Linked DNA regions of Homo sapiens. The protein of the gene in region 1 purifies or fractionates together with the protein of each later gene. This does not show direct contact. Each region holds a gene or a part of one and is shown in the gene's direction. Other genes may lie near its edges.

Region 1 (3,654 bases):
TCATTCTCTATTCCTGTAGTAAGCAGTGTCTTAGGCCTGAGGAAGTAATAACTTCTGTTTTATCTCTCTGGACCTTCTTTACAGGCGGGATGGTTAAATAAGTAGATGAAAAAAGTAGAAACATTAACATCTAGAAGTAATTTGCACAGTGATCAGCAAATTATCCTGGCAGTGATTTAAAACTCTAATGGTCTCCTTGGCTTTTGCCATCATCTCCAGGGCAGGTCTGGCTGTGGACACTGTGTGAATTCAGAGATGTAACTGTTTTGTCCTCACAGGAACAGTGGAGGCCATGTGTCTTTTGGCAGTCAGTCCAGATGGGAATTGGCTAGCTGCATCAGGTACCAGTGCTGGAGTCCATGTCTACAACGTAAAACAGCTAAAGGTGAGCATAGGGTTTCATGGCAGCAGTTTGAATCATTGTACAGGAGCCAGTTCACCCTGCAGTTACAAGATTCAAGGCAGATTGGCATGACCTGGAAATTTATTAGACTTTTTTCTTTTTATTTTCTTTTCTTTTCTTTTTTTTTTTTTTTTGAGACAAAGTCTTACTCTGTCACCCAGGCTAGAGTGCAGTGGCGCGATCTCGGCTCACTGCAACCTCAGCCTCCCGGGTTCAAATGATTCTCCTGTCTCAGCCTCCTGAGTAGCTGGGATTACAGGTGTGTGCCTCCACACCTGGCTAATTTTTGTATTTTAATAGAGACAGGGTTTCACCGTGTTGCTCAGGCTGACCTTGAACTCCTGAGCTCAGGCAATCCGCCCACCTCGGCCTCCCAAAGTGCTAGGATTACAGGCATGAGCCACCGCGCCTGGCCAGACTTTTTTCTTTTTAACTAATAATTTTTCCAGGTTTGGAATCCTGTTTTATTTTTATGGAACCCGGAAGCTATACTGTGTAACATTAAAAGCAGCTAATGGAAACAGTGAAACCCATTCATACCTGGAAATTTGAAATTAATGATCTGTGGGTGATGTAAACACATCCAGGTTCTTTCTGTATTTTCGGGAGGAAAATTCTGATATACACAGACAAATAGTTGCAGATAATAAGAGTTCCTTTCATGGCTTGCCTTGTAATCTCAAGGTAAACATAATCAAAACTTCGAAAAAGGAATACTGGGAAAACATTTTTCACTAATCAGTAATGACGCTGTCAGTCATAAATTGAGTCATTAGTGATCCCTTACAAGTCCTCATCTTCATTATAAGAATCAGATTCGAACTACCCAAAACTTGGAATAAGCATTAAAAGTGTATAGAATAACATCAAACTGCAACACTTAATGGGTTTACCTGTTAACTGCATAGTGTAACCTTTGTTGCATTATGGTAGGAGCATGTACTGAGCACTTGTCTTTGAGCCTTGCCTGGCATTTAAAGAGTGTTTGTGTGTAGCGTGCACATGCTTTGCAATTGTACATAAAAATCCATGCCTAGGCATTTATTTATTTTAAACCTGGTGTAGAGCTGTAGACTCCCTATTCAATGACACATTTATAAGCAGTTTGTACAGATGGATTTACTCAGAGGGAAAGGCTTTACTCTCAGTTCTCCACAAACGCTGTTAGTTTTGTACGCGGTTAAATAAGCTTTTTATTTTTTTGAGACAGGGTTTCACTCTGTCACCCAGACTGAGTGCAGTGGCACAGTCACAGCTCACTGCAGCCTTGACCTCTCTGCTCAAGCGATCCTTCCACCTCAGTGTCCTGAGTAGCTGGGACTACAGGCGAGTCCCACCACACCTAGCTAATCTTTTTTTTTAGTAGAGATGAGGTTTTGCTGTGTTGCCCAGGCTGGTCTTGAACTCCTGGACTCAAGCGTTCCTCCCGCCCTGGCCCTTCCGAAGTGCTGTAGTTACAGGTGTGAGCCACTGCGCCCAGCCAATAGGCCTTTTGTTTTTTTTTTGAGATTGAGTCTTGCACTGTTGCCCAGGCTGGAGTGTGGTGGCGCAGTCTCTGCTCACTGCAACCTCCGCCTCCTAGGTTCAAGTGATTCTCCTGCCTCACCCTCCTGAGTAGCTGGGATTACAGGTGCACGCCACCACACCCAGCTAATTTTTTTAATTTTTGGTAGAGATGGGGTTTCACCATGTTGGCCAGGCTGGTCTCAAACTCCTGACCTCGTGATCCGCCTGCCTTGGCCTCCCAAAGTGCTGGGATTATAGGCATGAGCCACTGCGCCCGGCCAACCAATAGGTATTTTTTTAAGAAAATGAGGACTGGTGCGGTGGCTTACGCCTGTAATCCCAGCACTTTGGGAGGCCGAGGTGGGTGGATCATGAGGTCAGAAGTTCAAAACCAGCCCGGCCAACATAGTGAGACCCCGTTTCTACTAAAAATACAAAAATTAAGCCAGGTGCAGTGGTTCACGCCTATAATCCCAACACTTTGGGAGACCAAGGTGGGTGGATCACCTGAGGTCAGGAGTTTGAGACCAGCCTGGCCAACATGGTGAAACCCCGTCTCTACTAAAAATACAAAAATTAGCCAGGCATGGTGGTGGGTGCCTGTAATCCCAGCTGCTCGGGAGGCTGAGGCAGGAGAATCACTTGAAACCGGAAGGTGGAGGTTGCAGTGAGTCAAGATCATGCCATTGCACTCCAGCCTGGGAGAAAGAGTGAAACTCCATCTCAAAAAAAAAAAAAAAGAAAAACAAAAAATTAGCCGGGTGTGGTGGTAGGCGCCTGTAATCCCAGCTACTTGGGAGGCTGAGGCAGGAGAATCACTTGAACCTGGGAGGCAGAGGTTGCAGTGAGCTGATTATCACGCCACTGCACTCCAGCCTGGGTGACAAGAGCGAAACTCCATCTCAAAAAAAAAAAAAAGAGAAGAAAAAGAAATGAAAGTTCATTGGTTGGGGAAATGCCTGAAATTTTTGGAACTTCCCTAGAACCCTTTTGAATTATGAGGAGCAGTATTTAAACCCCTGACCTAGACCATTCAATCTTTGCTGAGGAAAAGTGTCACTTAGAGTTGCCACTTGTGTCTGTTATTTGTTCCCAGCTTCACTGCACGGTGCCTGCTTACAATTTCCCAGTGACTGCTATGGCTATTGCCCCCAATACCAACAACCTTGTCATCGCTCATTCGGACCAGCAGGTAAGGGAGATTCCAGTGCTTTCTATTCCCTTCCTGCTGGATAGTAACCTAGAAGCTGGAATATTGGGCAGTTGCGGGGAGCTTTTTTTTGAAGGTGTTGGAGGATATAAGGTAGTTTTCTCCTGTGTGAAGTAAAGCTTCCTTGCCGGTCTGGGCTCATCATAGGCCAGCAGTATGCATTGGTTTGATGGGATGCAATTTAAATGGAGAAGCACTAAGATTCTAGAGTAAAGAATCACAAGAGGGAGGAGGAATTTTGAAGTACTCATTTTCCTGATTGTTTTAGAGGAGAGATGACATGGGCTTGGGTATTAAACTGGATATGGGATGGAATAAGATTTTGAGAGTTGAAAGTGACTAAAAGATTGTATCATTCACCTTTACGCTTGCCGATGAGGAAATCAAGCCCTAATAAGATCAGGTACCTAATCTCAGCCAAAATTAGAACCTAATCTACTTTTTTCTATACCAATTTGTAAGGAGATTGTGATTATAAGGAGATCTTTAAAAAAAAAAAAACCTGGGCTGCGGAATATATTAGGAAGTTATCAAT
Region 2 (3,654 bases), on another chromosome or scaffold:
GCCAACCTGACAAAACCTGTCTCTACTAAAAATACAAAAATTAGCTGGGCATCGCAGCGGGCACCTGTAATCCCAGCTACTCTGGAGGCTGAGGCATGAGAATCACTTGAATGTAGGAGGTAGAGGTTGCAGTGAGCACCTGGGGGATAAAGCGTGACTCTGTCTCCAAAAAAAAAAAAATTAAAAAGAAAAAAGGTTTCAGTTCTTCATACAGTGAACACTATTCAGCCATTAAACATGATTTTGTTAATAAACCTTTAATAATGGCAATATGTTTTTGAGATAATATTAGGTTTAAAACAGAAATTAAGCTAAACATCAATAAAGTGGTTATTTTTGGTGATGGATTTTTTTTTTCTTTTTCTTTTTTTTGAGACGGAATCTTGCTCTGTGCCCCAGCTGGAGTGCAGTGGCACGATCTCAGCTCACTGCAACATCCGCCTCCCGGGTTCAAGCAATTCTCTGCCTCTGCCTCAGCCTCCGAGTAGCTGGGATTACAGGCGCCCGCCACCATGCCCAGCTAATTTTTTTTGTATTTTTAGTAGAGACAGGGTTTCACCATCTCGGCCAGGCTGGTCTTGAACTCCTGACCTTGTGATCCACCCGCCTCAGCCTCTCAAAGTGCTGGGATTACAGGCGTGAGCCACTGCGCCCAGCCGATTTTTTTTCATTAAAAATATTTTCAGTAGAAATGTTTTTTGTTATCGTTATTTTTAAAATAAGAGATGGGGTTTCGTCATGTTGCCCAGGCTGGTCTCAAACTCCTGAGCTCAAGTGATCCATCCATCTTGGCCTTCCAAAATGTTGGGATTATAGGTATGAGCTACCACGCTTGGCCAGGAAATGTATTTTTATAATTAAAAAATAGTTACTGGTAATCACCATAGAATAAATCCATAATGTATTCCCTAGTCATCTCTACTTTCCCACACACAGCACTCCTAACTGCTGCTTCTCAGAGGGCACCATCCGCTCACATGCCTGTGTATCTTTGCTTAGTAACCCTGACCACTTAGGGAGTTCCTGCTCATCTTTTATTCAGTTCAAATGATAACATCATGAAGTCTTTCCCAGCCACCCTCTTTGCTTATTCCACACAATTATTTCGTGTAATTATGTACTTACAGTGTCTTTTCTGCTAGGCAGTGAACTTCTCTTTCATTTATTTTGTAAGTATTTGTTGAGTGCATATGTGTCTGGCACCATGTGTATTGTATACTGCAGATCTAACCATGACCCTAGGCAGACAGGTTCCTTCTGTCTTCAGGGAGTTTACAGTAAAGTTGTTCCTTACAGTATAATATTAAGTATTATGATAGAAGCTCCCAGAATGCTTTGGGAGCTCAGAGAATTGGTAGGTCTACCAGGCTGGTTAAACAAGGAAGGCTTCCTGGAGGGCATAACAGCTGAATACAGTTATATGCCACATAACAACATTTCAGTGAGTGACACCATATACAACAGTGGTTCCAGAAGATTATAATGGAGCTGAAAAATTCCTATTGCCTAATACTTACTATGTTATACTTATTATTGTTATTTTAGAATGTACTCCTACTTAAAAAAAAATTAAACTGTAAAACAGCCTCAGGGAGGTTCTTCAGGAGGTATTCCAGGAGAAGCCATTGTTATCAGGAGATGACAGCTCTGTTCCTGTTATTGCCCCTGGAGGCCTTCCAGTGGGGCAAGATGTGGAGATGGAAGACAGTGATATTGATGATTTTTACCCTGTGTAGAACTAGGCTAATGTGTGTCTTTGTTTTTAACAAAAAAGTTTAAAAAGTAAACATTTTAATAGAAAAAAGTTAATAAAATAAGGCTATAAAGAAAGAAAATATTTTTGTACAGTTGTACAATGTGTTTGTGTTTAAGCTGTTATTACAAAAGAGTCAAAAGTTTAAAAAATTAAAAATTCATGAAGTAAAAAAAGTTATAGTAATCGAAGGTTAATTTATTACTGATGAAAAATTTTTAAATTAATTTAGTGTAGCCTAAGTGTACAGTCTTTATAATGTCTACAGTAATGGACAGTAATGCCCTAGGCCTTCACACTGACTCACCCCTCACTCACTGACTCACCCAGAGCAACTCCCACGCCTGCAAGCTCCATTCATGGTAAGTGCCCTATACAGGCGTAACATTTTAAATCTTTTATACAGTACTTTTACTGTATTTTTTCTATCTTTCAATATACAAATACTTACGATTGTGTTACAGTTGCCTACAGTATTTAGTATGGTAACATGCTGTGCACATTTGTAGCCTATGAGTGATAGGCTATATACCATATATACCATATAACCTCAGTGTGTACCATCTAGGTTTGTGTAAGTTCATTCTATGATGTTCACACAACAACAAAATCACCTAAGGACACATTTCTCAGAATGTATTCCATCATTAAGTGACACATGATGGTATTAAAAAGAAAGCAAGAATTAGCCAGATCCAGGGGCAGGAGGAAGGTTGTTTCACCTAGCAGAAACAACCTGTGTAAACGCCTGGTATTTGAAAACCGTGATCAATTTTAGGAAGGTCGTTATGGTGTTTGTGGATATTGAGGTTGATTTCTGACAATTATATGTAAATTTATCTTAGAAGAAGCACCAGAATTCATTTCTTCTGTAAGAGATTAGGATAACAGCATGTATTACAGAAAGCATCCTAATGTTAAATTAAGCAAAAATTCAAGTGTGAATAGTAGTTTATTTTTTAAGTATTTGTATTAAATATATTCTCACTAAGGATTGAGAAGTTAGTGTAAAATAATAAAAAGTCTGAATTATAGAGTATTTTAAGCCTATTTTGTAATTTTCTTGATTGGTCCTAATAAAATGTTGCTAAGAGATTATTTGGGAAATACCTTTCAGTTAAAAGATTTAAAATAATGGCAATTTTATAGCAATTTTTGTATGTAACTGTGTTCTAAATAGAAAAAGATGTTCCTTGTAGCAGAGCAAATATTTCTCATGATTTTGATTATGTGTAATGTGTCCCTCTCGGCAATCAAGTCTTCAAAACTTCCTCTATCGCCTATTAAATTCTCTCTCATCATTTTTGTTTCCTATAGAGATTCTGAAGTTCTTTTTTTCCCTTCTGTCACTGTTTTCCAAACACTTACCCCTATTTCCAATTTCAAATAAAAATCAGTAATTTAAAGCAAATGGATCCAATTGCAATATGACTGTCATTAAATCATAGTATCCTGGCTCTGTGATTATGCAAAGTATACTTTTTATAGTATATCAGTCATTGGGTTTACATAGTGAGTGTGTAGTCCTTTTTTTCTTTCTTTCTTGACTAGGTAATATAGTGACTGTTTCTCAAATCAATTTTCCTTTAAAAAGAGATTAAATGAACCAGGGTTTTGTTTTTCTGCTTTTATAGATTTCTTGATAACCGGCTGTTTGCTACCTGCTCTGATGACACTACAATAGCACTATGGGATCTGAGAAAATTGAACACCAAAGTATGCACTTTACATGGTCACACTAGCTGGGTGAAGAACATCGAATATGATACTAATACAAGACTCTTAGTAACATCAGGATTTGATGGAAATGTCATTATTTGGGACACTAACAGGTTTGTGAATAGGAGACCATGTTAGGATTATGAACAAAAACATTTTTTTTAAAGATGGTGAACAAATTC
Region 3 (3,654 bases), on another chromosome or scaffold:
TGTGTAGACTGGTTGTCAGTTTGGTTTCTTTCCTTTGAAGGTAGCAATTCTCAGACATGTGCAGGTGTCAAAGAATCTGCACATTGCAGTGCTGTTTTTGGAACACCATAAAATATTGGAGTAGTCAGTTCTATCTCTGCACAGGGAAGAGATTTTCAGCAGAAAAATCTGACTATATATAGAGATAGATAAATAGATAGAGATTCCGATTTTTACATCACAAGTAACCACACAGTTTTTAAGTCTTCACTTCCAAGGTTTTATTTTTATTTTTATTTTTTTATTTTATTTTATTTTTTGAGACGGAGTCTCTCTCTGTCGCCCAGGCTGGAGTGCGGTGGTGTGATCTTGGCTCACTGCAGCCTCCGCCCTCTGGGTTCAAGCAGTTCTCCTGCCTCAGCCTCCCCAGTAGCTGGAATTACAGGCATCCACCACCACGCCTGGCTAATTTTTGTATTTTTAGTAGAGAGGGGGTTTCACCATTTTGGCCAGGCTGGTCTTGAACTCCTGACCTCAGGTGATCCGCCTGCCTCAGCCTCCCAAAGTGCTGATATTATAGGCGTGAGCCACTGCACACAGTCCAAGTTTTTTTAACTGGTGTTCATTTGCTAGTATTTTCTACCAGGCAAGCTAAGAAAATTATTTTTAAAAAAACTTTAAAATCTGAAAACAACACATGCATCAGCTTTTGTTCTTGGTGAATTTTCTGATTAATGTATTATGTTAGTAACAGAAGATCAGTGTGTTCCAGGAGTATAGTTTGAGATTCTCTAGTCTAAAGGGTCTAAAAGTGAAAGTTGGGTAAAAGAATAACAGGGAGGAAAGTTTTTGCTTCCAGTTTTTTATTTTTATCCAGCAGTAAAATTTTAGAAGACTGTAGGGAACCAAAGAGTGTAGGTTAGTTTTTACCTCTTCCATGGCCTAGGAATCACAGAAACCCTCATCAGAGGTTTGAGGGGACAGCGGTGGAATTCTGGGAAGCAGAATGCTTTAGCTGGTTGGTGGGAAGAAAATGGGAGACCAGTCTTCCCAGTGCTTCTCTGAGAAAAATGTTCCCAGAGAATTGGGTCAATAGATGATGCAAGTTCTTCACAGCTTCTAATCCCCTGTCTCCTGGAACCACATTGCTGTGCATGAGGACCACCAGCTTCTTACCTCAGAGGGTCTGCTTCCACCCTCTGCCTCAGAACATGGAAGCCATTATCAGTGGCTTAGAGCTGGCAAGACCCAGGTTCAGTGTGAGACCAAGGGGAGGAAAGAGTGGATAGCCGTCTCACCAGTTGGCATAGGTTGGAACTCAGAATTAATTTCACCATAGAAATTGTGCCCTAATAGTGATTAAGTGCTTTACCACTGTTAATATATTATTTCAGGTACTTTTATTTGAGGAGAGGGGAATGGTGAGGAAAACATAAATTGCCTGCAGTTAGAAACCATGTGCTTTGTTGACAAAATTTTGATCCTCTGTGTTGCCCCATTTTCAGATACTCTTTTTCATAAAATTGGGAAAAAATGGGAATAAATGAATATTAATTTTCTGCGGCAGTGAATAACTGATGCCATCTCAGTCCACTTGTGCATTAAAAAGAGAAACATTCTGTGGTTCCATGCTTCTCATCAATAGGGTCTTTTACAAACATGTTACTGTACGTGGCTGATTTCGTTTACTAGACAATTCTGAGGAAGGTATGAGTGCTTTTAGACTTGGCCACGTAGTAACTCCAATTTATCTAGATCACAAACAATAGGAAAGTTCAACAGTCTGGGAGTTTCCAAAGCCCTATACCATATAATGGTAACCTTTGAATCAGAGAAAAAAAGTTGTTATAGTTTGTGTTAAGTGACTTCTATTTTATTCGTGAAAATTGCTATGTATACCTTATATGGATAATATACCCTATATAGAAATGCCTGGATAAACATTGAAAGTGGCAGGGAAATTATTTTTAAAATTATTTGAAACAGGCCAACCTGGGAGGGATGAAGAGAACTGAAGAGTTACAAGGGGAGATGTCCTGGAAACTGGAGAACACTGCAAAAGGAATAAAGTTTATCCAGATGTATTGTTAAGTGAAACACATCAAAGGACAGTGTACCATGATCTGCCTTGTATTGAAACAAAACCATGTGTGTTTGTAAATGCGTAGAAGGCCTAGAAGGGTGGGGATTACTTCTGGAGAGTGTTAAAGGGACTCACTTTTTCCTTCCATCCTTTTGTTTTGTTTGAATTTTTATAGGGAGCAGGTATTACTTTTATAAACATTAAGAATTTAAAAATGTAAAAATTGTTAGAGACCAAGAGGAATAGTTTTGCCCCATTGAGGCTGACAGTCAGTGGGAAGTGTTATATGGCAAGAGTGTGATGTGGGACAGATATCAGTGGCCTCATCTAATTCCAGATTCCGGAGATCTCGGGAGCCAAGGCAGCAGGAAAAGCAGTTAGACTGTAGGAGGGACTTCAGTGACCTGGGCAGGTAGAGTTGGCGGCGGGAGGGGCCATGGAGAAATCAGAAACATCAGGAAGTAAAAGAAGGTGAATAGAAGACCCAGGGAGGCATAGGAGTAGTATAACGAATATGTATATTTTGGAGGAACCAGATAAGAACTGATATTTGAGTTGTTAGCTTTTTGAGGGACTGGCCAATCTCATTCATCTTTGTATCCTCTTTTGCCTACTTCAGTGACTTGCATGTAGTAGAAACCATTAAATGTTGAATGTTGTATGAGTTCGGCAAATCTGTACAGCCCTATGCTTTGGTCTCCTTTTATGACAGGAGGGTATTGTGTTAGATCCTTTCCAAGGACCTTTTTGGCTACATAGTCTTCTTCACCTGATTTCCATAAACCCCATACGTTAAATAATATATTCGTATGTGATTGTTTTACTAATGTGACTATATACAATACTTGGTGCAGTAGCCTTTTAAAGTAAAGAAACCTCAAAAGATTGGCTGATCCATACTAATAGTAGCGCCTTGGTACACACAAGTTTATAAATCTCTCTGCATTGAAAAGGCCCCAGAGAAAGTGGGACATAAACATCTTTAGTTTATAGGGTTCTGCAGGGAAAACTATAAGAGACACATAACATTTTTGTTCCCATAACCATCTGGAAAGATAATATCTTCATTATGTTCTCATTTCTGCTGAGGATCTTAAAGAATATCACATGAAATGCTGAAACTTTCATATTTGCAATAGAGATTGTAGAGCTGTCAGCATTTGAATGTCTCATTAGTGAGAGGAGAGGAAAGGCAAATTAACACTTTTTCTTTTTGACAGTTACATATTTTAAAGAAAAATGAGTAAAGGAAAAAGCAAGATTATTTTCATCAGAAGATGTTTTAATTGCCTTTTATATTGTCTTATTTAAATGCCATAATAGAGCCATAAATATGATATTAATAGATTATAAATATCTGCTTACATAAATAATATATCCTCTCTTCCTCCCTTCTATGAAGATTGAAAAGGCCAAACCTATTAAATGTGGAACATTTGGTGCAACATCTTTACAGCAGAGATATTTAGCTACTGGAGATTTTGGTGGAAACCTTCATATATGGTAAGATGATTTAGTCAGTATTCAGACAGATGAGATAGGCAATTTATTTGATAGTTTCATTACTCTTTCTCTGAAAGAGAGAATTTTAA

The links.
Region 2: the proteins of UTP4 (region 1) and DCAF10 purify together in Homo sapiens (co-immunoprecipitation; one large-scale study listed by IntAct). This does not show direct contact.
Region 3: the proteins of UTP4 (region 1) and DNAAF10 purify together in Homo sapiens (co-immunoprecipitation; one large-scale study listed by IntAct). This does not show direct contact.

Annotation. Positions count from the first base shown.
Region 1 is NC_000016.10:69,160,078-69,163,731, forward strand, and holds part of UTP4 (U3 small nucleolar RNA-associated protein 4 homolog), read left to right. Parts: intron 1-278; coding exon 279-385; intron 386-3,005; coding exon 3,006-3,101; intron 3,102-3,654. UniProt on the Homo sapiens protein: Ribosome biogenesis factor. Involved in nucleolar processing of pre-18S ribosomal RNA. Part of the small subunit (SSU) processome, first precursor of the small eukaryotic ribosomal subunit.
Region 2 is NC_000009.12:37,838,702-37,842,355, forward strand, and holds part of DCAF10 (DDB1- and CUL4-associated factor 10), read left to right. Parts: intron 1-3,387; coding exon 3,388-3,585; intron 3,586-3,654. UniProt on the Homo sapiens protein: May function as a substrate receptor for CUL4-DDB1 E3 ubiquitin-protein ligase complex.
Region 3 is NC_000002.12:68,147,378-68,151,031, reverse strand, and holds part of DNAAF10 (dynein axonemal assembly factor 10), read left to right. Parts: intron 1-3,464; coding exon 3,465-3,565; intron 3,566-3,654. UniProt on the Homo sapiens protein: Key assembly factor specifically required for the stability of axonemal dynein heavy chains in cytoplasm.